Homo sapiens: one gene and its partners. The protein of the gene in region 1 purifies or fractionates together with the protein of each later gene. This does not show direct contact. Each region holds a gene or a part of one and is shown in the gene's direction. Other genes may lie near its edges.

Region 1 (7,023 bases):
CATAGCAAGACCCTGTCTCAAAAACTAAAACAAAAGAGAAAATCAATTATATCTGAGCAATATCACAGGGAGGATGAGAGGCTTTGCGGATAAAAGTATACCTGGATAGAGGGAGGGAGAAAGATAAAGAGGAGGATCCAGTAAACAGTAGAGGAAAAAAAGGCTTTTAGTAAGGTTTTCTGGTGTCAGTCTGATGTATACTGATATTTAGGCTGTGTTGTAGCTGGCAAACTACTCTTCACACTTTTCAGTTGCTCTTTAATATGCATGAGCTCTCTCGATTAGAGTAGATGAGGAGGGCATTATTCTCTAGGCCGTGTGGCTAAAGCGCTATCATCCCTTGGTCATTGATAGTCCTTGCTGACATTTGATTTACATGCAGTTTTATGTCAGATCCTTTAAAATCACAAATATATGGAGAGAAAAATGGTATAGACAATAGAATATTCTACTGGGCCTATAACTGGTCCATTAAGTGCTTATTTAAATTGTAAACAATCAAATTTAATTTGGTGTTTATAAAAAATTATGTATGTGAACATACATTCTGTTATCTATATGTGTCTGTAATCCATTAGCTTATTTACAATGATCAAAGAATAGAAGTGTGAATAAATCAGAATGGCACATGATTGAAAATGCTGTGTAACTGAAGATGCATTTGTGTAGTCTTGAATTTCATTTGAAACAAAATTGTTAGTCTGTATCTTGAAGCACATTGCTACTTTGTATTTTTATTGATGTATAATTAACATTCAATAAAATGCACATAATATCCAGTTCAAGGAGTTCTGACAATTGTATACACTGTAACTTCTACCAAAATCAGATAGAAAACATTTTTTTTAAGTCACCCTAGAAAGTTCCCTCACCCACCTTCCTCCAAAGGCAATCACTTCCTGACTCCATAGATTTCTGACACTACAGAGATTTTTTGACTGGTCTTGGACTTCACATAAATGGAATCATACAGCATGTGCTTTTTTTGTGTTTGGCTTCTTTCATGTAAGAAAGATTCATCTATGTTGTTGGCAAGTATCAGTGGTTTGTCCTTTTAAGTTGTTGAATAGTATTCCATTGTATGAATGTACCCCAATTTATATTTTCTCCTTGATGGATATTTGGAATAAGATTGTTATGAACATACTTTTACAAGTTTCTTGATAAATACCTAGGAGCAGAGTTACTGAGTCATAGGGTATGTGTATGTTTAACTTTATTAAAAATCTGCCAAACAGTTCTCCAAAGTGGTTTATACTGAGTTCTACTTGCTCCGTATTTTTAGTGTTGCCAATGTTTAGTATTGTCAGCCTTTTCAATTTTAGTCACACTACAGGATGTATGGTTGTACCTCATTATGGTTTTAATTTACATTTTTCTGATGATTAAGAATGTTGAGTGCTTTATCATATGTTAATTGGCTATGCAGTATCTTTTTTTGTGAATTGTTTGTTCAAGTCTTACCTAGTCTTTCATTGGGTCATTCATCTTTTTATTGTTTGTAGGAGCTCTTTATATATTCAAGGTACAAGTTCTTTGTCACATATAGAGATAGATGTGTTGACAGTTTTTTTTTATACAGTCTGTCCCTTGTCTACTTTCTCAATGATATTGTGATGAGCAGAAATTTTTAATTTTTATAAAGTCTGTTTTATCAATTTTTTGTATTATGGCTAGTGTTTTTTGTCCTGACCAATAAATTTTTACCAGTGCCCAGGATTGCAAAGAAAGCTTTTTCTTCTAGAAACTTTATTTTTCTAAGTTTTTCATTTGAGTCTGTGATTGATCTCAAAGTAATTATTATTGTGTTATGATATAAGATAGGAGTTTGGGTTCATTTTCCACCTATATAGATATCTAGTTGTTCCAGCAACATAGGTTTAAGAAAAACTTCCCTTTCTCGGCCAGGCACAGTGGCTCACACCTGTAATCCCAGCGCTTTGGGAGACCAAGGCAGGCAGATCATTTGAGCCCAGGAGTTTGAGACCAGTCTGGGCAACATGACAAAACCACATTTCTACTAAAAATACAAAAATTAGCCGGAAGTACTGGCATGCACCTATAATCCCAGCTACTTGGGGGGCTGAGGCAGGAGGATCATCTGAGGGAGGTGGAGGCTACAGTGAGTTGTTATCATGCCACTGCACTCCAGCCTGAGGGCCAGAGTAAGACCCTGTCTCAAGACAAAACAGAACACATCTCTTTTTTGTTTGTTTTTCTCCATTAGATTGACTTGGCATCTTAGCGTGTCAGCTGAGCTACTTTGCATTTTAGTTGTGCTTATATTGTCAGTTTCTTAAGCACGGACCCTGACCTTAAAAATTAAATGTTTATGCTCCTCTTCCAGATTGGGACTTGACTGAGATTGATCCAGGGCTAGTTACCATGTATTTCCTGATGGAAGAATGTTAAGTATGAATTTGAATTTTAAATGGCTTTTCTGTGGGTCGAGTTAATGGAGACAACCTCATTTTAGAAGCAATTGCATCTTCCTTATAAAATAGGCAGATGTTTAGAATGAAGGAGATGTAAGCAAGGAAAGATCACCTAGGACTCCAACATAGCAAGCTATAGGGAGCTTAATATTTCTTGTTTATTGGCTTGATCTAAATAGATGCAATTATATATAAGCCATGTGTTTTAGTTTCCATCTTTTTCTGTTTTGTTTTGTTTTGAGACAAGGTCTCAATTTGTCACCCAGTTTGGAGTGCAGTAGTGTGATCTTGGCTCACTGCAGCCTCGACCTCCTGGGCTCAAGCAGTCCGTCAGCCTCAGCCTCTCAAGTATTAATAGCTGGGACTACAGGCATGCACCACCATAACTGGCTAATTTTTGTATGTTTAGTAGAGATGGAGTTTCATCATGTTTCCCAGGCTGTCCTTGAACTCCTGAGCTCAAGCAAACTGCTCACCTTGGCATCCCAAAGTGCTGGGATTACAGGCGTGAGCCACCACACCCAGCCTTAGTTTCCATGTTTCTACTCCATTGTCTATTCCAATCCTTTGTGATGCAATTTCTGAATTTGCCTTGGAACAATTTTTAGGGAGACAGTTTGGTTATTTTTTTCTTCTAAGTTTATTTGCTGATAATACACTAAGTTTTAAAAAGAATGTCACCCCAACCTCATTATTCTTATGTAGCTATTTTTACTTTTCCTCATTTCTTTCCAGGCCTGATTCATTCTCATACGTATTTTTATATGATTGTAATCATAGTGTGCATATTGTTTTTTGTTCAGAGATTGAGTTGTAACTAGTGAATGCTGTCTCCCTTAGGTAGATCACCCTTGTTAGTAAAGACAAAGATTAGAGATGGAGAAAAGACAACTGGGGACTTACCAGTGAGGAGTCTTGAATCCTAAAGCTTAACTAAAATAGAAGCAGAAAAAAGCTAAGATTTTCAAAGACAGGATTACCTTTCTGTGGAAATGCAGGACAACTTTGGTTTCCTTATTCATTCCTTCCCCCTTTCTCTAACATATAACAGCTTTAGTGAGATATAATTCGCACACCATACAATTCACCCATTTAAAGTGTACAGTTCAGTGGATTTTGCTACATTCAGAACTGTAGAACCATCACCACCATTTTAGAACATTTTCATCACACCAGAAATAAACCCCTTACCATTAGCAGTTACTACCTAATTCCTCCCAATTCCCCCCTGGTCTCCCCCACCCAGCCCTAGGCAACCACTAATCTACTCTCTCTTAAGATTTGCCTCTTCTGGACATCTCATATAAATGGAATCATATAATATGTCATATTTTGTGCCTGGCTTCTTTCACCCTTATACTACTCTTAAGAATTCGTTTTCACGCCTATAATCCCAGCACCTTGGGAGGCTGAGGCGGGTGGATCACGAGGTCAGGAGATCGAGACCATCCTGGCCAACATGGTGAAACCCCGTCTCTACTAAAAATACAAAAATTAGCCAGGCATGTTGGCACACACCTGTAGTCCCAGCTACCCGGGAGGCTGAGGCAGGAGAATCGCTTGAACCTGGGAGGTGGAGGTTGCAGTGAGCCGAGATCATGTCACTGCACTCCAGCCTGGTGACAGAGTGATGCTCCGTCTCAAAAAAAAAAAAAGAAAAAAGAAAAAAGAAAAATACTGAAATACAGTCAAGGTTCCTCCTGAGATGTGCACCCTTTTTGAGCTATAAAGATATCCACTGCCTCGGGTATATATGTTCAACACCTGCACCCACTCACTAAGGAAGGAACACAAACACACTAAGACAAACTTACAAACTAAGGTAACATATACAGTGATGATAACCCCCTACAAATAAACAGTTTCATATCTGGGCATAACTAAGCATGAACATCATGATAAGTACATACAAGTGAACACAGTTCCTGAAGTGTCTGTGAGAAAGTGAATAAAAACATGGTAAACTAGAAGAAAATGAGGGCTGGGTTTGATATATATATATATAGACTTGTAGGTAAGAAGATTGTTGTATTTCCTTAACCATAGCATAGCAATTCTTTTGAGCAGGATATTATTAGTGATACTTATACAGTAGGGGATTTCCATCCATGTGGAAAATTACAGCCAACAAAATATTTTCATTCCCTGGGTGTGGTGGTAAAACTTTGATGAGGAGTTAAGGAATATTCAGAAGAAGCCCCTCAAATGTATATGAGTCTGGCTTATATTCAGGCAGCCCTTACCCTGAGGCAAACGTGACAAGATATGATACAACCCCCAAGATTTATTTTCATTCATGGTGGGCTATAATTAACCCAGGTTAATACTCTTAGGGAACTATTCTTTTTTTTTTTTTTCCTCTTTAATGTGCCCACTTGAGTGCTAGACCAGCTGAGGAGTTGGGGGTCTAATTTCACTGGAAATAGCAATAAATATGTGATGATTTCAAAGTCATGCCCACCCCACTTTTGTTTTTCTCCTGTTGTCCCTAAGATTTACAGTTTCTTGGTGAAAAATTACAGAACCCTACACAGAAATGGACCAAGGCAGATGTGTAGGATTTCACCTCTGCAAGGCCTTCGGGGCAGGTGGGCTCTTCTGTTAGTCCTCAGCACACCCTCTGTGCTTGCCTTTCCTCTGCCACTTTTCTTGAACCCCCATTATTATTCCTTGTCAAGTCATCTCACTTCCTGCTTTCCTTAGACATTGGCCAGCATTCCAAGTGATATAGTGTGCCCTCCACCAGAGAATAGCTGGCACTGCTTTAAGCCCCTTAGCCTTCCCTCCTACCTCAGAAGAAACTGTTTCCTCTTTTCTTCTCCCACTGCCTGAATCTGGTATAGCACACAAGGGGAGCCTCTGCAGAAATGTTACTTGAACTGGTCCCTGAAAGATGTGAAAGGATTTGAACATGAGAAAGAGTGCAAAAGGACATTTCCTGTGTAATGAACCGTGTGATGTAAGGGCTGCAGGCGGAAGAGCATGGAGGCGTACTTACTTCTGTGTAACACAGGGTGTGTGAAGATCGCTCCTTTCCCTTTACTTTTCTTCTTCTTGCCCTGGATTCCCTCCCAGCTCCAACCTTTTTCAGCCTGTGCTTTGATCTCTTTGTTTAGTATATACTTCTCCACTCCTCTCTGTGTAGCTAATTCTGTCCCTCCCTGACCACCCACAGTGATCTCTGAATTTCTGTACACTAATAGCCAGTACCATTCTTTTGGCAGTTAATTATATATTTTCTTGAAAAAAACAAAAAGCACTTTATGTGCATGTCTCATTTTCCCAAATAGAGTATGTTAGTCAAGGTGTTTAGGTCTCCGGGAACACAAACCCACTTAAGCTATCTTGCTAGATGGTATGGTGGCAGAGCTGGGAGTTGTACTGCATTACTATTGTAAGGCTGCTGAGGTCCGTGAAATGACCTACCACTGGTACCCAGAGCAGACACTTTGAAAGTCTCTGTCCTCTCTCTGCTTGTAGGGCTCTCTTTGGCTTCTTTCTGTGCCTCTGCTCCATTTTAGGACATTAATTTTAATTTTTAAAAAATAGTATGCATTACTGTGTAATTTATCTTGATTGCTGAGCTTTTTTGCACCCTATTAAATACTGAGACACCCTGAGGCAGGTGCCTCCTTTACTTTTTCCCTGTAGCCCCAGCCCTGCTTCATTCTCTTCCCTGCAGACTGACCTTCTGTGCTTTCCCCTTAGCTTCAGCTTCAAGGTGACTAGCTTGTTATGGTAGTGCCTCCAGACTTGGTGATACCTTATGTCTCAACTTGAGTTTTGTCTCCCAGCTTTCCAGATTTCTGGAGAAGAATTGAATTTGATCCGTCCTGGTTAGATTGAGAGTGGTGACCCCTGTACCAAACAGCTGTGAAAGATGTGGCTTTGTTATGTTGTTTCTTTGGCTGTATATTTCACAGGGACTGGAATAAGGGGTGGGTCCCCCCACACAAGGAGGTTTGGGGTTGTTCATCTCAAAACATGCTTATTTTGATGTCAGAAGGAAGTGACCATGCCTTCTCTTTTTTGGTATGTTCCCTGCATCTGGCAGATTGACAGCTAAGAAATAGGTGTATCTCTCTTTTTTTTTTTTTCCATTTTGTTTGAGACTGGGTCTCACTCTGTTGCCTAGGCTGGAGTGCAGGTGTGATCATAGGTCCCTGCAACCTCCGCCTCCCAGGCTCAAGCAATCCTCCCACCTTAGCTGCCCAAGTAGCTGGAACTAAAGGCACGTGCCACCATGCCTGGCTAATTTTTTGTAATTTTTATAGAGATGGGGTCTCTTTATGTTACCCAGGCTAGTCTCAAACTCCTGGGCTCAAGCAGTCCTCCTGCCTTGGCCTCCCAAATTGCTGGGATTACAGAGGTGAGCCACCACACTCAGTCTTCTCTTATTTGGTGTCTATTTATTCCTATGACTTGCCATTTGACCATTAGGATTAACTTTTAGGTATAATAGTCAATTCAGAGCAATTTTTTTTTTCGAGACAGGCTTTCGCTGTCATCCAGGCTGGCGTGCAGGTGTGATCATAGCTCACTGCAGCCTTGAACTCCTGAGCTCAAACAATCCTCCTGCCTCAGTCTC
Region 2 (7,023 bases), on another chromosome or scaffold:
TCGATCTCTTGACCTTGTGATCCGCCCGCCTCAGCTTCCCAAAGTGCTGGGATTACAGGCGTGAGCCACCGTGCCCAGCCCCAATTATTTTTACATACAGGATGTTTTCTAAGTAAGAAAATTTAACCTATGTCTAAAAGTAAACAACAAAAAACTGCTCATGGAATCTTCCATTTTAAGAAATAATCTCTTGAATATACCCTATCAGTTAACTGTTTATATTTTTGTTTTATTTTTTTTAGAGATGAGGTCTCACTGTGTTGCCCAGGTCGGTCTCAAACTCCTGGGCTCATGTGATCCTCATGCCTCAGCCTCCCAAGTAGCCTGATACATAGGTACATGCCACTATGCCTGGCTAGAATTTTCCATTTTAAATAAAAGTAACAAAAAATACCCCAAAGATGTACTGTTCCATAAGCAGACACAAATTTAAAATATGGCTATTTTCTACTGGGACACCTGGTCCTGGGGCTTGCTCTTTTCGATGTTTGTTCGTAGCTTATCTTTAGCACCTAGGACGATGTGTGTCTCCTATTAGGCACTCAAGAAAATAGGTTTTGAATGAATGTGGCTGATACGATAAGGGTCTGCTTTGTTCTATGATGTGACCATAGAATAAGCATCGGCTTCATTTGAGAGATTGGATCTTGCTGATGAACCTTTATTTTCATTTCAGATTAGAAAACTGAAGCTTCAGTTAGAGGAGGAACGACAGAAATGCTCCAGGAATGATGGCACAGTGGGTGACCTGGCAGGACTGCAGAATGGCTCAGACTTGCAGTTCATCGAAATGCAGAGTAGGTACCAGGGGACAGGCCAGTCCCAGTCTGTATATAGACTGTGTCCCAGGGGTGGGTTTGTCAGCAGGTTGCTGGTATCTTGTAATACACTTTTCTTTTTTTTTTTTTTTTGAGATGGGAGTCTCACTCTGTCACCCAGGTCAGAGTGCAGTGGTGCAATCTCCGTTCACTGCAGCCTCTGCCTCCTGGGTTCAAGTAATTCTCCTGCCTCAGCCTCCTGAGTAGCTGGGATTATAGGCGCCTGCCACCATGCCCGGCTAGTTTTTTATGTTTTTAGCAGAGACAGAGTTTCACCATAGTTACCAGGCTGGTCTCGAACTCCTGGCCTCAGGTGATCTGCCCACCTCAGCCTCCCAGAGTGCTGGGATTACAGGCGTGAGCCACCGCGCCTGGCCGTTAATATGCTTTTCTTAAGAAGAGCTATGCTGCAAAAATTGGTTAGTCCTTGGCTAGTCCAGAAAAACAGTCCTAGTCAGCAATATAGCTGAATAGAGGCTCCACTAGCCTGTGTGCTTCAGGGGATAATGAGGTTTATTGCTCTTACCCTTTCTGGATAAAGTGATTTCTAGGAACTTTTTGCACACAGTGAAATGCCTTTTGACAACCTGGCACTGTCCTTTTCCACATCCATTTGTCATCTTTAAGCTCCCATACAGCAAGCACCCTTCCCCATTAAAGTTTTTTCTCTGGAATTTGTCTTGGATAATTGGACGAATCTATTTGGAACTACTTCACACTAAATTGAGTAGTTTCAGAATTTTCCTAGAAGTATTTTGTTAATCCAAGTTTATCTTTATTAGATGAAATTTAAAATAAGTCCACAAAATAAAGTCTATTCTATTCATTTTACCCGAATTATTCCAGTTTTTCTCATTTTTCTACTTCTGACCTCATAATAAAATGATCACTGCAGTCACACTAATTCCCATAGTAGGAAGATTTCAGCAGGAATTTGTAGTTAGCCTTTGTTAGTGATTATGTGTAATTCTCGGACAGAGGAGATTTTCATTTTTCCAATAAGAATAGTGACTTTTCTGATAACTAATATTAAAATCTTGTTTATTCCATGGACTTTTCATCTAAACCTTCTGAGATAGGCTGCCAAGAAAAGACATGTTGGGGCCAGGCGTGGTGGCCCGCACCCATAATCCCAGCATTTGGAGAGGCTGAGGTGGTGGATTGCTTGAGCTCAGAAGTTTGAGACCAGCCTGGGCAATGTGGTGAAAACCCGTCTCTTCAAAAAAAAAAAAAAGAGAAAAGACTTTTTGGGTTAAGGCTTATTAATACTAACTTTTGATATTGGTATTATCTTTTCTGTTGGACATCAGTTAGGACACTTGTGACATTTCCTGGTGAATATTTTGTTCAAGAATGTCATTTTGGTGTTGGCGGTAGATGAGAACAGGGACATGGGAAAAGGCAGGCTGACTAGTTAGGAAGCTACTACAGTGGTGAGCCTGAACCAGTTCAGTAGCTGTCAGCAGTCTTAGAGAGAGGGTAGGGAATAGATCTGAGAGATTGTCCTTAAGCAGCAAATTTAAAAGGAAACAGATTTAGGGGGAATGGGCTGGCATTTATGTGTGAATACTTCCTAGAGTAGGTAGGTTGTTGTATAGCTGGTATTTGCAGAAGGTAAAGTACCCAGGCAGGAGGTGTAGAACAAAGTGAGCTTTGCAGGACTGTGGGAAAGCTGGCAAAGACAAAAGCAAGCAGCTTCCCTGGACCAGAAGGCCAGGAGTGGAGCAACTCTTGGTTCTGGATGGTGCCTTGCCTATTATGAGAGTGTTTTGGAATGGGATTTCAAAACACACATGAAGTTACTGAGATAAGAGACTTAAACTTTTGAAAACAGGAAGGGAAAGGTGGTTTGGAGAGTGAGAAGGAAGAAGTACATTTGGATAATCAATAGATTGCTGAGGATAACAATTTAAAAATCAGATCCTGAAGCTTGTTTTAGGGCTCAGAAATAGGAATACTTCTCTTTCACTACCAGATATGGCTTTTGGGGAGATGGTAACCCTGTTCCTTTTAAGGTGACAGTAATTGTCCAATTAGAAAAACCTCTCACCACTTTAGGAGGCTGAGGTGGGTGGATCACGAGGTCAGGAGATCGAGACCATCCTGGCTAACATGGTGAAACCCCGTCTCTACTAAAAATACAAAAATTTAGCCAGGCATGGTGGCGGGTGCCTGTAGTCCCAGCTACTCAGGAGGCTGAGGCAGGAGAATGGCGTGAACCTGGGTGATGGAGCTTGCAGTGAGCCGAGATCGCGCCACTGCACTCTAGCCTGGGCGACAGAGCGAGACTCCATCTCAAAAAAAAAAAAAGAAAAACCTCTCACATTGAAGACTGTATAAGTAATTGTAACCTTGGTCATGTGGAAATGTAGAAAAGTTCTTAAGTTAGATAATCTGAATATTTCCTGTGGTATGTTAGATTTGGTTTATCTTTTGCAAATCTTATTACTGTAATCATGCCAGAGACTGATTTTTGCTAAACTTGGATTCTTGGAGGGATTTTAAAAGTCCCCTGCCATCATTTCTAAACTTTTCATTTTAAGTGATTTACTTCCTAGGTCAGATGTTCATCTAGTAACTTATAGCTCTACCCATAACACATTATCACATTACTGAACAGCATTTATTCCAACATATATTTATTTAGGCATACACTGTGTGCACTTGGCTAGGTACATAGGTAGATTTAGGAAGGCCAAGACAGGGCCCCTCTTCTTGCTTACACATACGATGTTTAAAAAGCATGACAAATGTCATAAAAATGCAAATAAAATACAGCAAGGGAAGGACTTATAATTAAGGGGAGTCATGAAAGAGGTGAAAATTGAGCTTGGCCTTGAAGCAAGTCAGAGGTGGGAGAAAAGGACCCTTACAGTATTGGACAGCAGAAGCAAAACCTGGGAGATGGGAAGGCATGGGGCCGCGTTCAGGGAACTAGAGGGCCCAGTCCCGTGGGCAGGGAGGCTCCACAAGGTTACACACAGGGTTGGTAGGGGCTGCTGCTGAATTGGCAGGGCTCCTTTCTCAAGCCCTGCTCACACATATCATAGGGTAAAGAATTTTCTTCTAACTCTTGCTGCAAGGGATACTGTAGTAACATATATGCTAGAGCATCTTGTAGTATATACAGTCCAGAACCTGGGCTGCTGAAGATGCTGTGGTTGTTGTGTGTGCATTTGTATTTTGTAATTTTTTTTTGGCAGGGGGACGGAGTATCGCTCTGTTGCCAGGCTGGAGTGCAGTGGCGCGATCTTAGCTCACTGCAACCTCTGCCTCCCGGGTTCAAGTGATTCTCCTGCCTCAGCTTCCCGAGTAGCTGGGACTACAGGCCTGTGCCACCACGCCCAGCTAATTTTTATATTTTTAGTAGAGACAGGGTTTCACCATGTTGGCCAGGATGGTCGCCTCTATCTCTTGACCTCATGATCCACCCACCTCGGCCTCCCAAAATGCTGGGATTACAGGCGTGAGTCACCGCGCCCAGCCCTGTATTTTGTAATCTTAAGACTGCATGGTCCTCTCTGTGCCACAGAGGTACTGCCTGATGGCTCATACTGTCATCTCTGACAGGTGAAGATAATTCATTGTCTTCTTCTGTTCTAGGAGATGCCAATAGACAAATTAGCGAATACAAATTTAAGCTTTCAAAAGCAGAACAGGATATAACTACCTTGGAGCAAAGTGTAAGTACTTCTATATGGTACTAAGTTATTTAAATGTCCTTCCTGCATCTAAGTGGCTAACAACCCATGAGTGCCTGGGTTGCCTTTGCAGTTGGATCAATAATAGTTCTGTATTAAAATAGAAAAGCCAGCAGAGAGCACTTGTTGGGACATTTTAGCCTTCTGTTTTCTCTAAAACCATAGGAAACTATAGCTATCAGTTTTTGTAGATATTTCAGGAGAATTCAAGATCATCATTTGTAATAAAATCCCTTACGCATTCCAAAAAGTGTAAGAACTTTTCCATTTAGTGTCTCTTCCTATATTGCTTTGGCACTTAAACAATATGGTCATAATAAAACTTAGCATGGGAAATTGGCCCTAAAATGACTCTACAGCTGTAATCCTCTCTGGGGACATTACTTGATTTATAAATAGCAACTGAGTTCTGAGAGGACTTATGAGTCACCCTTAGGGGACTTGTTAGTAGATTACTTGGCATTTATAATGACATTGTATTTCCATCCTGGCTACCAAAAAGTGGTGACTTCTAGTGCCCAGTACTAGAGGCCTATGTTCTCATACTTACAGATTAGCCGGCTTGAGGGACAGGTTCTGAGATATAAAACTGCTGCTGAGAATGCTGAGAAAGTTGAAGATGAATTGAAAGCAGAAAAACGGAAGCTACAACGAGAGGTACTTCTTTTAATATGTTTCTTGGAGAATACATTCCTAAAAAGAAAAAATCTTCTGGAAATAATTCTTAGCTGTGTAAGAAATTTGATACTTAAGGAAACAGCAGTGGAGTCACTTAACTAATTTGTGTTGGTTTTTGACCTGCATAGTGACTGCCATTTACTTTTATGTTTTGGTCAATTAGATACTAAGTAAAAAGATAGTTTGTATTTTTGCTTCAGATCAGGTCTATTTCTCCAACTTCTATATATCCTTTCTGTGATTAAAACAAATAAACAATCCTCAGTATCATCATTTAACACCTCTAACTGATAGAAAAAATGAGGTTGTGGGTCCTGTGCAAGGCCATCACAGTTAGCAGTGCTTTCATTTCCCAGGAAGTTGAAAATAGAGTAGCACTGGATGTTGTTTCTGACCACATGTAGTGACTGCATTCTCCCTGTCTCCAGTTACGAACAGCACTGGACAAGATTGAGGAGATGGAGATGACCAACAGCCACCTGGCCAAGCGGCTGGAGAAGATGAAGGCCAATAGGACAGCACTTCTGGCCCAGCAGTAGGAAAACCACCCTTCAACCTGGGTGATGCTCCTTGGGGCCCTACCTAGAGGGACTGACTTTTGTCCATTGACACAAACCCCTTTTAGTACTGTTTTGAGTTTTGTCATTAAAACAGCCACCTTTGTATTTTATAATTTATGACAGAATGAAGTCATTTTGAATCTACATGAATGAACACTTTGGATTTTGTTGTAGTTTGATTCTAGGGTAGAACCAGTCCATGCTGTTTTTATTTTTTATCTCCGTAATTGTAGAATCATGTTTACTCAACGTTTTTCCCCAGCTGCCTCAGTAACTGGGCACTCGGAGGCCTTGGCACGGGTTCTGGAGGACAGACAGCAATTCTATGAGTGCTCACTGAGATACTTGCTGGAGACCTCAGAAAACACAAGTGCCTTCTCCACGGTGCAATTCAGACTTCAGTGATCTCCAGTGGTCAAAAGACATTTACCCTTAATATCAGACAACATTTATATTTTAGTGAAGAAACAAGTTCTCGGGTGGGGAATCTATGTTTCACTCAGATTTATATGTTTGGAGGAAAAAAGCCTTTTTTTGTAAAATATTTAAATTTATATAAGAAAATGTTAGAAAAAAATATGGGGAGTGTATATAAAACTTGCTTTATTGCATGGGGCAGGGGAAGTCCAGGCCTAATACTCCTAAAGTAAGAGTTGGGTCCTTTTTTTCTTCAATACAACTGTGCTGTACCTTGTAAAGTATTTTATCTGCTGCTTATTTGTGGAATGAAACCTCAAACAAACCCAAAGGGGGAGGGTAGGGCAGGGCAGGCAGATTGGAAATCTGCCTGCAGATTCTATTAAATACACCCTTTTGCCAACCACAATTGGCTACTGACATGTTCATTTTGTTATAGGAGACTTTAAAACAAATCATGGCAACCACATCCCTCTTCTTTTGTCTCCTTCTCAAGGAAAAACAATCTGGAATGTAGAACTTTTAAAGACTTGAGTTTCACCTTTAGAGGTACCCTGTCCAAGAGGTTTTTTTAAAATCATGGAGTGCAACTACTTTGCAGAATTTATGATTCTCTTTTGCTCTTAGTACCCAGGTGGTTTTATAGAAATGATTATTGTATCTTTAAAGTGCTTACACAGAAAATATATTGGGGGAAAATCTAGTGACTAAAGGCACATAAGATAATAAAACTAGACTTTAAAAAGGTAACTCAAAAGTGAATAAAATCTCTAATATTTGTTCCTTTTTTAATTAGCCCTTCATTTAAAAAATATGGATACCAATCTTCTGAATTGAGATGATTTTCTA
Region 3 (7,889 bases), on another chromosome or scaffold:
CCACTGCCCACAAATGGCTGACAAATATTTATTGGGCACCTACTATGTGCCAGGCACTGTGTAGGTGCTGAAAAGTGGCCAAGGGCCACCCCCGCTGATGACTCCTTGCATTCCCTCCCCTCACAACAAAGAACTCCACTGTGGGGATGAAGCGCTTCTTCTAGCCACTGCTATCGCTATTTAAGAACCCTAAATCTGTCACCCATAATAAAGCTGATTTGAAGTGTTACCTTTTTTTGGAGGAATTGGGGAGAAGAATGGGAAAAAAGATGGGAGTGACTGCATAATGTCAGCATTTTGTGCTTTTGGCTCAGCATTTGGATTGGATGGAGGATGTAAGTATAGTTTAAAAGCAAGAATAAGTATATTTAGGGGCCCTATGATAATTTAGGGTATTATCTGAAAGCAAGAATCTAGTAGCCAAGGGAGAAACCGCACACACTAGGTCAGGGGTCCCCAACCCTTGGGCCACAGACTGGTACTGGTCCATGGCCTCTTAGGAACTGGGCCACACAGCAGGAGGTGAGCAAGCATTACTGCCCAAGCTCCACCTCCTGTCAGATCAGCATAAGCATTAAATTCTCATAGGAACTCGAACCCTATTGTGAACTGTGCATGCAAGGGATCTAAGTTTCTCGCTTCTTACGGGAATCTAATGCCTAATGATCTGGGGTGGAACAGTTTCATCCTGAAACCAGCCCTCCGTCGCCACCGACCATGGAATAATTGTCTTCCACGAAACTCTTCCCTGGTGCCAAAAAGGTAGGAGACCACTGCACTAGATGATGCACACACTTTGTCCCTCATCCTAGGGCTTTTACTTATGGCCACTTAGGAGATTCCTAAGGCCACAAGTCAAGTAGATGGAGAGAGTATCTTGAAACTTTGTCCACCTTGCAGCAATATGTTGCTAGGTTTGAAACATGGAGTCATGAGGCATTTTGAAAGCCAATAATATCTACAGTTTATTAAGTATTCACTATGCATCAAGTGCTTCATTACATTATTAATACATCAACCCTATGAAGTAGGTGCTATTAAAACCCTATTTCACTCAGAAATTGAGGCACAGAGATCTGCCCAAGATTGCAAGGAATAAGCGGCAGGACCAGATCTCTTCATCACATTTCACATTCCAAATCACTCAGCTATAAACTCCCTAACATGACAGGTTGCCATTTAGAGGTACCAAATGGTTGTCTGCCCTGCTCCTTCCTTGATGCCAACCAGCCTGATTAGCATTGATCAAAGACCAAGCCAGAGAGGTAGTCCTCTCCCTTTTCAATTTCATTTCATTTCTTTCTTTTTCTGAAACAGGGTATTGCTCTGTTGCCCAGCCTGGAGTGCAGTGGCACAAATGGCTCACTGCAGCCACAACCTCCTGGGCTCAAGCAATCTTCCTACCTCAGCCTCTCATTGTTCCATATCTATATCTCTTATGCCCAAAATAAAATTTCCCCTGCCCCTTGTCTGCACTAAACTATAAGTTTCCAAAATGAACCCTTCCCGTACTCTATTTGGTACACATCTTGTCTCCTGAATAGAGTGTATTTTTTATTTTATTTTATTTTGGAGACGGAGTCTCGCTCTGTCACCTAGGCTGGAGCGCAGTGGCACAATCTCAGTTCACCGCAACCTCCGCCTCCCGGGTTCAAGCAATTCTCCTGCCTCAACCTCCTGAGTAGCTGGGATTACAGGCGCATGTGGCCACGCCCAGCTAATTTTTTGTATTTTAGTAAAGATGGGGTTTCACCATGTTCCCCAGGCTGGTCTCCAACTCCTGAGCTCAGGCAATCCACCCGCCTCAGCCTCCCGAAGTGCTAGGATTACAGGTGTGAGCCACCGCAGCCGGCCATCTCCTGAATAGATTTTAAATACCTAGAGGTCAGGGATGATTATTCAATACATATATATTGAATACTTACTATGTGTTGGACCCGGTGCTAGGGTTTTATGTATATATTTGAGAGCTCCACATCCCTGGATCTGAATCCTCCACTTCCCACTGGAACCATGCCCCTCCCAGTCCCGGTAAGTAAGAGGGAAGATCGGGAGGGCCAAATCCTACACCAGGGTCTATCTTAGGGAGGGAAGGGACCTGGCTGGGGGGAGGGGGATTCTGAGGAGTGAAACCACTTCCTGTGTAGCTAGTTCCTGTGTTGACAGAAAGAGCAGAAGAGGAGGTGGGGTGGAGGGAGCAGAGCCAGGGATTAGGGGACTACTGAGGCTCTGGAGATGAGACCGCCAGGAGTCCTTCCCCACCATGAGCCCCCTCCACTCCTGCAGCTGGAGGAGTTTTTCCCAGTCTCAGTGCTGCCCTGGGGCGAGAGAGACTGAACAAGCTGTTTGGGTGGGAAGAGAATGGAGGAAGTTGACAGGGATGGGCGGGGCCCGTGGGGGGGCTGACCAGGAACCCAGCTTCCTGCTCAGTACCCAGGCATCCAGCCCCCAGCTCACCCCCACCCCTTCCAGCCCCCACTCCCCTCAGGAACCCAAGGTTCCAGCCCTCCTCCCAAATCCCAGCCACCCCTCCCCCACCAGTTTCTCCCCTCTAGGGGATGGAGGCTGAGAGACCCCAGGAAGAAGAGGATGGTGAGCAGGTGAGCTGGGCACGGGGTTGGGGAGGCTGACACTGGGAAAGAAGGGAGGTGAGAGGACCTGGGGCAGAAATGTAGGGACACAGGGGCCTTGAAAGGCTTGGGCAAACTGAGGCAGGAACAGAGACACACAGAGAGGAAACGGGCCACTGGCCTAGCCCCCTGTCCACTCCTCCCGCTTCAACCACCACTGCTTGACTAGAATGGACATATTTTGGCATCAGGGCCCCCCTCAGGATGAGGAAGGCTGGCCCCCTCCAAACTCCACCACTCGGCCTTGGCGATCTGCTCCTCCATCCCCTCCTCCTCCAGGGACCCGCCACACAGGTACCCCTACCCACCCAGGGAGAGCCCCGACCCTAGTGCCCACATCCTGACCCCATTACCAAGGCCCACTCCATTGTGGGCCCTCTCCCCACCTCCTCCAGACTCCCCTTGGGATTCCCCATTGCACCCCCTCTCCTCTGATCCAAAGTCCCTAATCACGTCACCCTGTCCACACTCCCCCACGGCTCCTGTCTGCCAACCTCTCTGGGTCTCTGAGCCCTCCACACCCCTCTCCCCAGCCCTGGGACCCCGCTCGGCCTCCCTGCTCTCCCTGCAGACTGAACTCCTTCTGGACCTGGTGGCTGAAGCCCAGTCCCGCCGCCTGGAGGAGCAGAGGGCCACCTTCTACACCCCCCAAAACCCCTCAAGCCTAGCCCCTGCCCCACTCCGTCCTCTCGAGGACAGAGAACAGCTTTACAGCACTATCCTCAGTCACCAGGTAAGACATCCCCCCAGGAGGCAAACCCAGGCCTCCTGGTCTCTTGGCCCCTGTTCTCTTTGGGGCTCTACTCCTGTTTCTCCCTAGGCACCCCATCGCCTTCACAGGTTTCCTATATGCCTCCCCATACCAACCCTTGATCCTCTCAAGAACCTCCTCCTCTCAGACCCTCACCAAAGCTCTCCCTCTCCCTCCACTCCTCCAGTGCCAGCGGATGGAAGCCCAGCGGTCAGAGCCTCCCCTCCCTCCAGGGGGGCAAGAGCTCCTGGAGTTGCTGCTGAGAGTTCAGGGTGGGGGTCGAATGGAGGAGCAAAGGTCCCGGCCCCCCACACACACCTGCTGAGACTTGAGCCCCAACCAGCCCTTCCTTGCCACTGGTCTCAAAGCTGGGCAGCCCATTGCATGCCCTCAACTCTTGCTTGGCAGGGGTACCAGAGACTGAAAGACACGGCACAAATCTCAATATTCATCTCCCACATCACCTTCCCTGGGAACTGGACAGGGTGAAAGTCCTCAAACTCTGGGAACAGGCGAGATGGAACAGGGATTTAACTCCCCGCCCACAGGTCCATGGGAGCTTGAGGCAGTAAGGGGGATCCCAGGCACCCATCTCAAGGAGTGGCTGGGAGTCTTTTCCCTAACTTGTGGGGACACCACCAGTTGTCAAGCTACTAGGCAGTAGGGTCTGAGGGCTCAGGCCTCCACCTGAGAGGTTATAACCTGAGAGACAGCTCTACCCTTCCTCCCAGTAAGAAGGGAAGGTGGGTGGGCACCTGAGAGATTAAGACTATTCTCCCAGTCCCACTACCAGCACCCCCGATCCCTGAGACTGAGGGGTTTACGGGCTGTGAATGGACCTTCAGCCCTGCCCACCCTCCCTCCCCACTGCTGCTGAGTCTGTCTGATGTTTTGGTTGTGTGAATAAATATAATTCCCCTCTGGACTGCAGACTGGTATCTGGGGGGCCCAGGCGGGGTGAAAGGTAGGAAGGTGAGGCCAGAGGCCTTTTCTCTCCCCAGTCTGGCCAGAGGCCAGCTCCCCTCCCCGGCTGGTTAATTACTGGCTCATTAAGCAGCGGCTGGAGACCTCCCTAATTATCTCCCCCAGCCCCCCTCTTCGGTTTTAATTAAGTAGAACAGGGAGGGGAGTCATTAGAACAAGAAATATGAACTGAGCTGCCGGTGAACCCAGGCATTCCAGCGGCCTGAGTCCACATCGCTTAGATCCCTGATTCAGGACCCAGGTGACAGACGCCCCCAGCCGCCAACACAGCCCCACTCCTAGGCCGCGGAAGTCCAGCCAGGGGGCTTTCCCATATCTTTCAGATGGCCCGTCTCCTCCCCTCATCCCCTCTTCCCTCTCCCCTCCTCCACTAGGTCTCAGTTCCTCTGTTTCTGTGTCTCTCTCTCCGCCCCCAGCTCCTCCCTGTTCCTCCTCTCTTCTCCCCTCCTCTTCCTCTCCGGCTCCCCTCCCCCAGCCTCCCTCCCTCGCTCCCCCCCCTTCTCCCTCCTCCCTCCTCCCTCTCTCTCACACACACCCCCGCTTGGGCCTCCTCTCTCTCTCCGGCTCCATTTTCTCCGCCGCCGGGGGCCGGGGTCTCCTGTGGGGGGCCCAGCCGGTATCCCAGGTCTCCCTTCAGTGCCGGGGTGAACCCCCGGGGGAGCCGGGAGCCGGGGGCAGACGGGCGGGGGTTGGGGCGGAGGGAGCAGCGGCCCCAGCGAGTTTGGGGGGAGAAGTAACCAGGCGGGGGGAGGGGCGGAGCAGGGAGGGGGCCTCAGGGCCCCCCCCCAGCTATGGACGAACGGCTACTGGGGCCGCCCCCTCCAGGCGGGGGCCGGGGGGGCCTGGGATTGGTGAGTGGGGAGCCTGGGGGCCCTGGCGAGCCTCCCGGTGGCGGAGACCCCGGTGGGGGTAGCGGGGGGGTCCCGGGAGGCCGAGGGAAGCAAGACATCGGGGACATTCTGCAGCAGATAATGACCATCACCGACCAGAGCCTGGACGAGGCCCAGGCCAAGTGAGTGCCCCCACTCCGGGACCCCACACAGACCCAGCAAACCCCGTTCACATGTTCTGAATCTTCTGGGAGCCCCCCCCAACTCCAGGGCCCTCTCCAGGATCCAACAGCTCTCTTCTCTCCTTATTCCTGGGAGCCCATAGAAAAGTGATCCCTCTCAAACCTCCCTTCACCCCCAGGCCCTGAAACCTTCACAGAGGGAACCCCCGGTGGCCCGGCTCCCCACTCCTAACCTTTTGCCGACCCCTGCAGTCTCCTGGAACAGCCCCATCCCCGGGAGCCCCCTCTGGCTCCCAGACTAAGAAACTGTTCTTGGGCTACGTTATCTTCTCCCCTAACTCTCCACCCAGCCCCCTCATTCTCTCCAGATGTGGAGACCTCCACACCCTCTCCAGAGCCCCTAAAGCTCCTCTCCACTGCTCAGCCAGACACTAGGTGCATCAAAGCCTCCCACCTGCTCAGCCCCAGGACCCCTTCACACACCCTACACTGATCTCCCCAGTTAGCTCGGCACCCCCAGCCCCACTCTGCCACCTCAAACTCTGACTCTTCTCAACCCCAGCCTCTGTCTCTCTCCCTCTGAAACCTACCAAGTCACTTTCCTTTCTCCATCCACTCCCAGATTCCTCCTCCTACCTTTCTAGACCATCTCCCAAAGCCCGCAGCCTTTAACCTGCTGCCTGCATCTTCCCTGTGTCTCCCTGAAGCTGAGGAGCTTCCCCATGCTCTGGGAGCTGATCTTTTCCCAAGAACTCCTCATTCCACCCCCAACTCATTCCACCCCCAATCCGCTTCCTCCCTCCGCAGACTGACCCTCCTCCCTCCTTGTTCTCAGGCCCCCTGCTCTGTTTCTCTAGCTCCTCAACTTTTCTCTTTCCCCACTCCCACTCCTCCCAAGGAAACACGCCCTAAACTGCCACCGAATGAAGCCTGCTCTCTTTAGCGTCCTGTGTGAAATCAAGGAGAAAACTGGTATGTGGGCCCCCCCCGGATTGCTCAACTCTGGGAACAGAACCCTGTTCATTATAGGGCTAGAGTGTGACAACTTGGGGCCCTGAGGAAAGTAAGGAGTCAGGGGGACTGGGGAAGGAACCAAAGCCTGGGAACTTGGCTCTCCAGGAAGCACCAGGAGGACTGAGCACTGGGTATTGGGGTCTCTGGGTCCCTAAGTCCACTCGCCTGCATGCTAGGCCTCAGCATTCGGAGCTCCCAGGAGGAGGAGCCGGTGGACCCACAGCTGATGCGCTTGGACAACATGCTTCTGGCAGAGGGTGTGGCTGGGCCCGAGAAAGGGGGCGGCTCAGCAGCAGCAGCTGCAGCCGCTGCAGCCTCTGGTGGTGGTGTGTCCCCTGACAACTCCATCGAACACTCGGACTATCGCAGCAAACTTGCCCAGATCCGTCACATATACCACTCGGAGCTGGAGAAGTATGAGCAGGTAAGGAGAGGAGGCTTGGGTGGGTGGAGGGAAGGGCTCTTGCAGGGGAATCCCATGGTCAAAGGGCTCCTCCTCACCAGCCCACTGGCCCCCACTACAGGCATGTAATGAGTTCACGACCCATGTCATGAACCTGCTGAGGGAGCAGAGCCGCACCAGGCCCGTGGCCCCCAAAGAGATGGAACGCATGGTGAGCATCATCCATCGAAAGTTCAGCGCCATCCAGATGCAGCTGAAGCAGAGCACCTGCGAGGCTGTGATGATCCTGCGCTCCCGTTTCCTGGATGCCAGGTGGGCCCAGGGACCCCAGGCTGGCCCCCAGCACTGGGCTCCTTCCCATTCCTCTCCAAGACCCTGAGCTGCCATGCTGCACAACATGGTACTCCATGACAATGGTGACTCTGGGGTCATGCCATGTGACAGCCCTGCCAGGACATCAACATCCTCCTCACTGCTCTTCTCCCTCCTCTGTAGACGAAAGCGCCGTAACTTCAGCAAACAGGCCACTGAGGTCCTAAATGAGTATTTCTACTCCCACCTGAGTAACCCATATCCTAGTGAGGAGGCCAAGGAGGAGCTTGCCAAGAAGTGTGGCATCACCGTGTCTCAGGTATTATGGAGGTTGCGGGAGGAGTTGTCAGGCAAAGTGCACGCATCTCAGCTAGGTGCAGTGGTGTGTTCCTGTAATCCCAGCTACTAGGGAGGCTGAAGTGGGAGGATCACTTGAATTGGAGACCAGCCTGGGCAACAGCATAGTGAGACCAGGAAGCAAAAAAAAAAAAAATGCTGTCACTCACATCTTATTCAGTGAAGGACTTCAGAGGCAAATGTTTCTACCTGACCCTCCTTTCTGCCCCACAGGTCTCCAACTGGTTTGGCAACAAGAGGATTCGCTATAAGAAAAACATCGGAAAGTTCCAAGAGGAGGCAAACATCTATGCTGTCAAGACCGCCGTGTCAGTCACCCAGGGGGGCCACAGCCGCACCAGCTCCCCGACACCCCCTTCCTCTGCAGGTGGATCCCACTGTCACCCCGGCTGACTGTTTTGCACACTTCCTGCTTTTGTTCCCACT
Region 4 (7,023 bases), 450 kb from region 1:
CCTGCACCTTCCACCTTCAATTTGAGCAGGACCTCTTCTGAGAAAGCCTCTGCAGCTAGCCCCTCCACACGGTGCCTTCCATATTGCCTGGTAACAGCTCGTGAACTCTGTGTCTCCACTATTGACCAAGAGCTTTCAGTGAGCAGGGGACAGTGGGAGCTTCATAAATGTTTGATGTGCACCTGTGTGCATGACTGAACGTTTTTGCTTACAGAAATAGCTAGGACCATGGAGACGATGATATGGATGATGTTATTTTTATCTCTATGTGCTAGATGCCATCCTCAGAGTTTCATGTGCCGCCTCTCATTTAATCTGGATAAACAACTCTGTGTGTTAGATGATCTCACACTTTTAGAAATGGCTCAGGTCAGGTAAGTTGCTAAGGTAACATACAAGTGATGGAGCCGGAGTTGAAAACCTATGTTCTTAGTGTCTCTCACTACCACCACCTTGGTTCAACCGCCTTTATTATCTTCCTCTTCTTCAAGGGATCTGACCTTTTCCCCGCACACAGTGGGCTTGTGAGAAGTTCATCCACTTTCTACCTACCTCTCCTGACACCTGCTTATTTGTATTTTTCCTTATAATAACTAAATTGGAACCAATCCCAGTGTCCAGCAAGAGGGGTAAAGTTAAGTAAATTATGGAAGATTCACATGGTAAAACAGCATGAAGCCATTAAAAGTACTATTTCTGAAGAGTTCATAACATGAAAACATGGTTATGTGAAAAATGGGGCACAACAGTTTATATACTGTATGAAGATAAATATAAAATATGCGGCCGGGTGCGGTGGCTCACGCCTGTAATCCCAGCACTTTGGGAGGCCGAGGCGGGCGGATCACGAGGTCAGGAGGTCGAGACCATCCTGGCTAACACGGTGAAACCCCGTCTCTACTAAAAATACAAAAAAATTAGCCAGGCGTGGTGGCAGGCGCCTGTAGTCCCAGCTACTCAGGAGGCTGAGGCAGGAGAATGGCGTGAACCCGGGAGGCGAAGCTTGCAGTGAGCCGAGATCGCGCCGCTGCACTCCAGCCTGGGCGACAGAGCGAGACCCTGTCTCAAAAAAAAAAAAAAAAAAAAAAAAACATAAAATATGCAAACAAAGAAAAAAGACCACACATATCACTGCCTAAAGATTGGACGGTCTTTCTTTCTAGTAGCTGCAGAGAAGTCAACAAGGATGAAGGCTGGGGATGGGTTGTTAGGTTTGGCCGCTAGTTTTGGTCCCTGGCGTCGTTTCTGTTTGGGTAGAACTGTGAAGGGGAAAGGGAAAGTCTGACATGACCCGTGAAAGGGAGGAAACCAGCAGAGGACTGCAGTTTGAAGACATAAGAAAGGCACCAGGCATGGGTTAACCTCAGAAAGGAGTGAGGGCCTGAGGCCACAGTGGCAGGAGTTGAAGGCACAGAGATACTGACAGAGAAGGAAGAAAGCCCAGAGAGCTTGACAGCTGCTGAGCAGGAAGGGTGGGTAGGACAGACGGCTTGAGGAGAGTGACAGTGCCACCAACCATTTCTCTGACAGCATCATTCCAGACCCTCAGCATCCAGGCCACCTTCCTCTGGGTGAATTTTCACACCTTGATGCCCATTTTAGTGGCACTATTCTCTAGCCTTGATCTGCTCAGCCATGAGTACGGTGCAACTTCTTGTGAGCATCCCTCAGTGTATCCTGGCATTATGTTAGTGCTTTAAGCAGAGCTGGTACATGCTCTGCCCCTGGTGGGTCAAATCAAGTCCTGGTCCTGCCCCTTACTAACTGGGTGACACCAGGCAAGTTACTTAACCTGAGTTTCCACACCAGTATAATGGACTGAATCATGCTTACCAGCTGAGGAGGTCACTATGAGGATTAATGGCGTGTAAAATCCTTAGCACAGCACCTGACACATAATGCTTAATAAAGATTACTCAAATACTGATGCTATTATAATACAGTTGATTTTTTTTACCTAAATACAGACTTTACATTTATCCCTATAAAATTTTCTGTTTTGTTTAGTGCCCAGCGTTTCTGTAGCTTGTAAAAACCTTTTGAATCTTGATCATCTTTAGCTAATCAATCATTTCATCTGCTTGTTTGATACATGTGTTTTGTTTTTTCATCTACGATACTGGTGAAAGTGTTGAATGAAAGGGGAGGCGGTAGAGCTCTGTGGCATGCCTCTGGAGACCTTTTTTTTTTTTTTTTCCTAAAGGTTGCTCTTGCTCATTAATTAGAACTCAGGTTATGACTGTGTAGTGACAGGTTCACTACAGTCATTCCACCATCTGTTTCTTTCACTTGTGCAAGAGGAACTCACAAATATCTTCAAAGTTCTGCTGAAACTCAGATGTGCAAGGTCAAAAGAAGTGTCTTGACTAGCAGTCCAGGGCCCCTGTCTAAAATGAGGTCAAAGTTCAGCGTAACGATTTTTTTTTTAATTTGGCTAATTCTAAATAGTTTTTAGACTTCTATATACCATTAACAACTCTGGAAAATTAAATGTATCCATTGTATTATGTATGGGTAGTTCAAAGAGAAAAAAAGGGATGAAAAGACTGAAATACTTAGTCTTTAATTGGTGCAACTGAACCACTGGGAATTTGAATTTTTGTTCAAAAGTTGTTTATGGAGTGCTAGTTATGGGAAGCCTTTGCATTGGATTCCAAGCACAAAGACCAGGCTCTTAAAGTTCAAATGCCAGTGGGGGAGATGGGAGGCAGCCTAGATACCTGGGGGAGGAGCAGAGAGCGCTCAAGGGAAGCATCCAGCTCTGCTAGATGGCAAGTGGCAAGGAGAGTGCCAAGATGAGGAGTGTCTCCAGCTACTCCAGACTGTTCAGAGCTGTTTGCTCTTGGATGGGGAGAGGATGGGTGGGGCTAGGGTGGAAGGAACAGAAGTACACAGCAGAAAGCCAAAGAAGGCCTGCCATGTTCCAGAAAGTGCTAGTGGTTTTGGGTGGCCACAGGCAGAGGGTGGATTGAAAAGAGGGTGAGGCCTGAGCAGGAAATTGGCCAGAATGCTGGTTGCCCAGGCCTGGCTCTTCCTCAAAACCCATGTGGGGGTTGATTTTCAAAGCTTTTCTCTTGCCGGGCCCCACCCACAGGAATTCCAATCAAGTACGGATGAGAGAGTCTGTCTGCCCAAAGAAACCTCGTGCTCAGCCTGGCTGAGGAAGCCTCCGGGGGCTGCTGCACCAGTCAAGAGAGGATTGGTGGGGGTAGGGTTGGGGGCTGACTTATGGCCATGGCAAGGGGGCTGGTAGGCAGGGGCGGACAGGAGAGGGCTTTTAAAAGGCAGTCTTTTCTAGCACCTGGTGACTGTTGGGCTGTTGGGGTGGAGACACAGAGGGGTGCCCAGCACTGTCCCAGGCTTCTGACATGAGGGGCAAGAGAGCTAGGAAGGAGGAGCGTCGGCATCACTGGAGTTTGGAATTTATGAGTCTATGAGGACATTTAGGGGCTGACATCTTGGAGGCAATTGGAAATGTGGTGTAGAGCTCCAGTGCACGATCTGGGTGGGAGGTCTCAGATGCACAGGTGCCAGGCAGTTGCAGAAGCTGTGGAATTGGGTGGAACTCTCCAGAAACAGCCTATCATGAGAAGAGGCTGGGAAGGACCTTGGGAGACACGGACATGGGGGGCAGTGGGAGGGGCAGGGGAGCCAGGGGAGGGGCCCATGAGGAGCGAATGAAGAGGAGGAGGAAGAGAGGGGCATGGTGTGACAATCTGGCCTGGCTGACCTGGAGTGTGGACACTCCCAGTCCAGAAAGCGGTTCTAGGAGGGAAACACATGTCGTCCCATCTTGTCCCATCTTCCATATAAGTCTTCAAGTCATTTCTGTGGCTCATGCCAGAAGATCCCTCAGAAAAGCAGGCGGCGTGAGAAGATGCTGTTCTCATCTCACCTGTGTGCCTTGGGGGGGTGGCTGGCATGGTCTTGAGCTCATAAGGTTCAGTGGTCCCGAGCCTCTGCCTCAGCTTGGCGCCTTGGCATGGGGAGGGCACTCAGGGAAGTTGGGAGGTGGCCCTCTCTTTCCTGGCTCCGCTGAAGGGCTTGGCGAGCTGTTCCATCCCAGTCCACAGACTCCTGCCTCATGGGAAGGCCCCATATTCTGGAGGTCAGTTGACAGCTGGTTACATTGTTTGCATGAACTGCGGACTGCATCTGTTTGGATGAATGCTGTAAAGTTAACTCTTCCTCCAGTTTGAAGCATTGCTTTGTGGGTAGAGGAATGTGAGGGAGGAGGGGACAGGAATGAATGGGTGGAACTTACCCGGAGCTGAGTAAACTCACCGTTGTTTACTTACCAGGCTGGGTTTCAGCTGCAGGGCACTCAATGCCAGCAGAAGCACCAGGATCGCAGGGTGTGGGCGGCCTGGGGTACTGGGCTGAGGAGTCACTGGTCTTCAGAAGAGAAGCCGTCAGTGGTTACGTATGTCCTAATACTGCCTGCCATTTAATACCACTTTTAGCTGAAACCAATCCTAAATTATAGTTAGGAGAGCACATGGACTCTCAAGTAGATGGTTGCAGTTCAGAGTTCAGGATTACTTTCAGGGCCAGATTCGCTTAACTAATACGGAGTTCAAACTAGGAGTCACAGGCCCTAGCTCTGCTGGAGTCCTGGTCCTTTGAGACTCTGTCTGCTGTTTGGTGAGTTATTTCTCTCTGGGCTTCAGTTAGGGGCTCTGTTAAACAAAAGGATTGATTGGCCTAGTGACTTTCACATTACTTCTCAGAGCCCAGGCTTCCTTGGAAGGCCCCCAGGGCTCTCAGCTCCAGCTCCCATCAGAACACCTCCACTTTCACCAGCTTCGCTTAGCCAGCTGTTACAACTTAATTTTTTTTTTTTTTTGAGACGGAGTTTCACGCATGTCACCCAGGCTGCAGTGCAATGGCAAGATCTTGCCTCACAGAAACCTCCGCCTCTCGGGTTCAAGCGATTCTCCTGCCTCAGCCTCCCAAGTAGCTGGGGTTAGAGGCATGCGCCACCACGCCCAGCTACTTTTGTATTTTTAGTAGAGACGGGGTTTCTCCATGTTGGTCAGGCTATTCTCAATCTCCCAATCTCAGGTGATCCACCCACCTCGGCCTCCCAAAGTGCTGGGATTACACACGTGAGCCACCGCGCCTGGCCAGAACTTCCTTTTGAAGTAGGCTTTCTGCAGCTCTAAAAAGGAGTTTGACAAACAACTTGGAGTAGATAATCAGTTCTGAGACTCTGTAGTGGCCAATTCTTGATAAATTTGGTAATTCATGTACAATTCTTTTGGGGGGCATATATTTTGATATTTGCCTTTAAAGATTAACATTCATTGTTCTGATTATGAAAGTAATAGGTACATATTGTAGAAAATACATCCAACTCTCAGGTGTCTCTTATGAGGATCCCATTCCTAATCCATTTTAATGAAGTAAGCTTCATGACGTTAGTAATAAATATTTTCAATAGCAGACCTGGGGTAGGAGCTGTGTAGCCCGTGGCAACAAGGATGGGTGTGGGTGTGTGTGCCTGAGACAGGCGTGTCTGTGTGTTTCTTTATGAGGCCTCCATCGTCCTATCTGCACAAGAGTGTGTGTCACTGCCTGCCAGGTCATTCTTCCATTCTCGTTCTCTCAAAACTTACACATCCATGTCACGTTTCGGCAAGCTTCTGCTTTTTGCTAGCTGTTAAGGATTAAAGCAACTCAAATGATTTAGGGGTAGTCATGATTGATATCCATCCAGTGACTTTTCTGTTTTATTGATTAAGTAAGGCGATTTATATTAACTAATAGATAGGTTCCTCATCCAGCATTGTCCTAGTCTAGTACTTGTAACTGTGAACTTTGTTTGTTTGTTTGTTTGTTTGTTAGTTTTTCTTTTTTTTTTTTCTTTTTTCTTTTTTTTTTTTATTGATCATTCTTGGGTGTTTCTCGCAGAGGGGGATTTGGCAGGGTCACAGGACAATAGTGGAGGGAAGGTCAGCAGATAAACAAGTGAACAGAGGTCTCTGGTTTTCCTAGGCAGAGGACCCTGCGGCCTTCCTCAGTGTTTGTGTCCCTGGGTACTTGAGATTAGGGAGTGGTGATGACTCTCAACGAGCATGCTGCCTTCAAGCATTTGTTTAACAAAGCACATCTTGCACCGCCCTTAATCCATTTAACCCTGAGTGGACACAGCACATGTTTCAGAGAGCACAGGGTTGGGGGCAAGGTCACAGATCAACAGGATCCCAAGGAAGAAGAATTTTTCTTAGTACAGCACAAAATGAAAAGTCTCCCATGTCTACCTCTTTCTACACAGACACGGCAACCATCCGATTTCTCAATCTTTTCCCCACCTTTCCCCCCTTTCTATTCCACAAAACTGCCATTGTCATCATGGCCCGTTCTCAATGAGCTGTTGGGCACACCTCCCAGACGGGGTGGTGGCCGGGCAGAGGGGCTCCTCACTTCCCAGTAGGGGCGGCCGGGCAGAGGCGCCCCTCACCTCCCGGACGGGGCGGCTGGCCGGGCGGGGGGCTGACCCCCCCCACCTCCCTCCCGGACGGGGCGGCTGGCCGGGCGGGGGGCTGACCCCCACCTCCCTCCCAGACGAGGCGGCTGGCCTGGCGGGGGCTGACCCCCCACCTCCCTCCCGGACGGGGCGGCTGCCGGGCGGAGACACTCTTCTCCTCCCAGACGGGGTGGCTGCCGGGCGGAGGGACTCCTCACTTCTCAGAGGGTGCGGCTGCCGGGCGGAGGGGCTCCTCACTTCTCAGACGGGGCGGCCGGGCAGAGACGCTCCTCACATCCCAGACGGGGCGGCAGGGCAGAGGCGCTCCCCACATCTCAGACGATGGGCGGCTGGGCAGAGACGCTCCTTACTTCCCAGATGGGATGGCGGCCGGGAAGAGGCGCTCCTCACTTCCTAGATGGGATGGCGGCCAGACAGAGATGCTCCTCACTTCCCAGATGGGGTGGCGGCCGGGCAGAGGCTGCAATCTCGGCACTTTGGGAGGCCAAGGCAGGCGGCTGGGAGGTGGAGGTTGTAGCGAGCCGAGATCACGC

What was found.
Region 2: the proteins of TMOD3 (region 1) and LRRFIP2 purify together in Homo sapiens (affinity purification with mass spectrometry; 2 studies listed by BioGRID and IntAct, with this or other methods). This does not show direct contact.
Region 3: the proteins of TMOD3 (region 1) and PBX2 purify together in Homo sapiens (affinity purification with mass spectrometry; 2 studies listed by BioGRID and IntAct, with this or other methods). This does not show direct contact.
Region 4: the proteins of TMOD3 (region 1) and MYO5C purify together in Homo sapiens (affinity purification with mass spectrometry; 3 studies listed by BioGRID and IntAct, with this or other methods). This does not show direct contact.

Annotation. Positions count from the first base shown.
Region 1 is NC_000015.10:51,832,647-51,839,669, forward strand, and holds part of TMOD3 (tropomodulin-3), read left to right. Parts: intron 1-7,023. UniProt on the Homo sapiens protein: Blocks the elongation and depolymerization of the actin filaments at the pointed end. The Tmod/TM complex contributes to the formation of the short actin protofilament, which in turn defines the geometry of the membrane skeleton.
Region 2 is NC_000003.12:37,052,564-37,059,586, reverse strand, and holds the end of LRRFIP2 (leucine-rich repeat flightless-interacting protein 2), read left to right. Parts: intron 1-676; coding exon 677-797; intron 798-4,421; coding exon 4,422-4,501; intron 4,502-5,071; coding exon 5,072-5,176; intron 5,177-5,625; coding exon 5,626-5,736; 3' UTR 5,737-6,961; downstream 6,962-7,023. UniProt on the Homo sapiens protein: May function as activator of the canonical Wnt signaling pathway, in association with DVL3, upstream of CTNNB1/beta-catenin.
Region 3 is NC_000006.12:32,187,183-32,195,071, reverse strand, and holds the start of PBX2 (pre-B-cell leukemia transcription factor 2), read left to right. Parts: upstream 1-4,869; 5' UTR 4,870-5,156; coding exon 5,157-5,377; intron 5,378-6,275; coding exon 6,276-6,349; intron 6,350-6,567; coding exon 6,568-6,815; intron 6,816-6,915; coding exon 6,916-7,106; intron 7,107-7,289; coding exon 7,290-7,425; intron 7,426-7,676; coding exon 7,677-7,830; intron 7,831-7,889. Other genes in the region: GPSM3 (G-protein-signaling modulator 3), read left to right, coding at 2,559-2,600, 2,822-2,924, 3,164-3,363, 3,569-3,706. UniProt on the Homo sapiens protein: Transcriptional activator that binds the sequence 5'-ATCAATCAA-3'. Activates transcription of PF4 in complex with MEIS1.
Region 4 is NC_000015.10:52,285,800-52,292,822, reverse strand, and holds part of MYO5C (unconventional myosin-Vc), read left to right. Parts: intron 1-7,023. UniProt on the Homo sapiens protein: May be involved in transferrin trafficking. Likely to power actin-based membrane trafficking in many physiologically crucial tissues.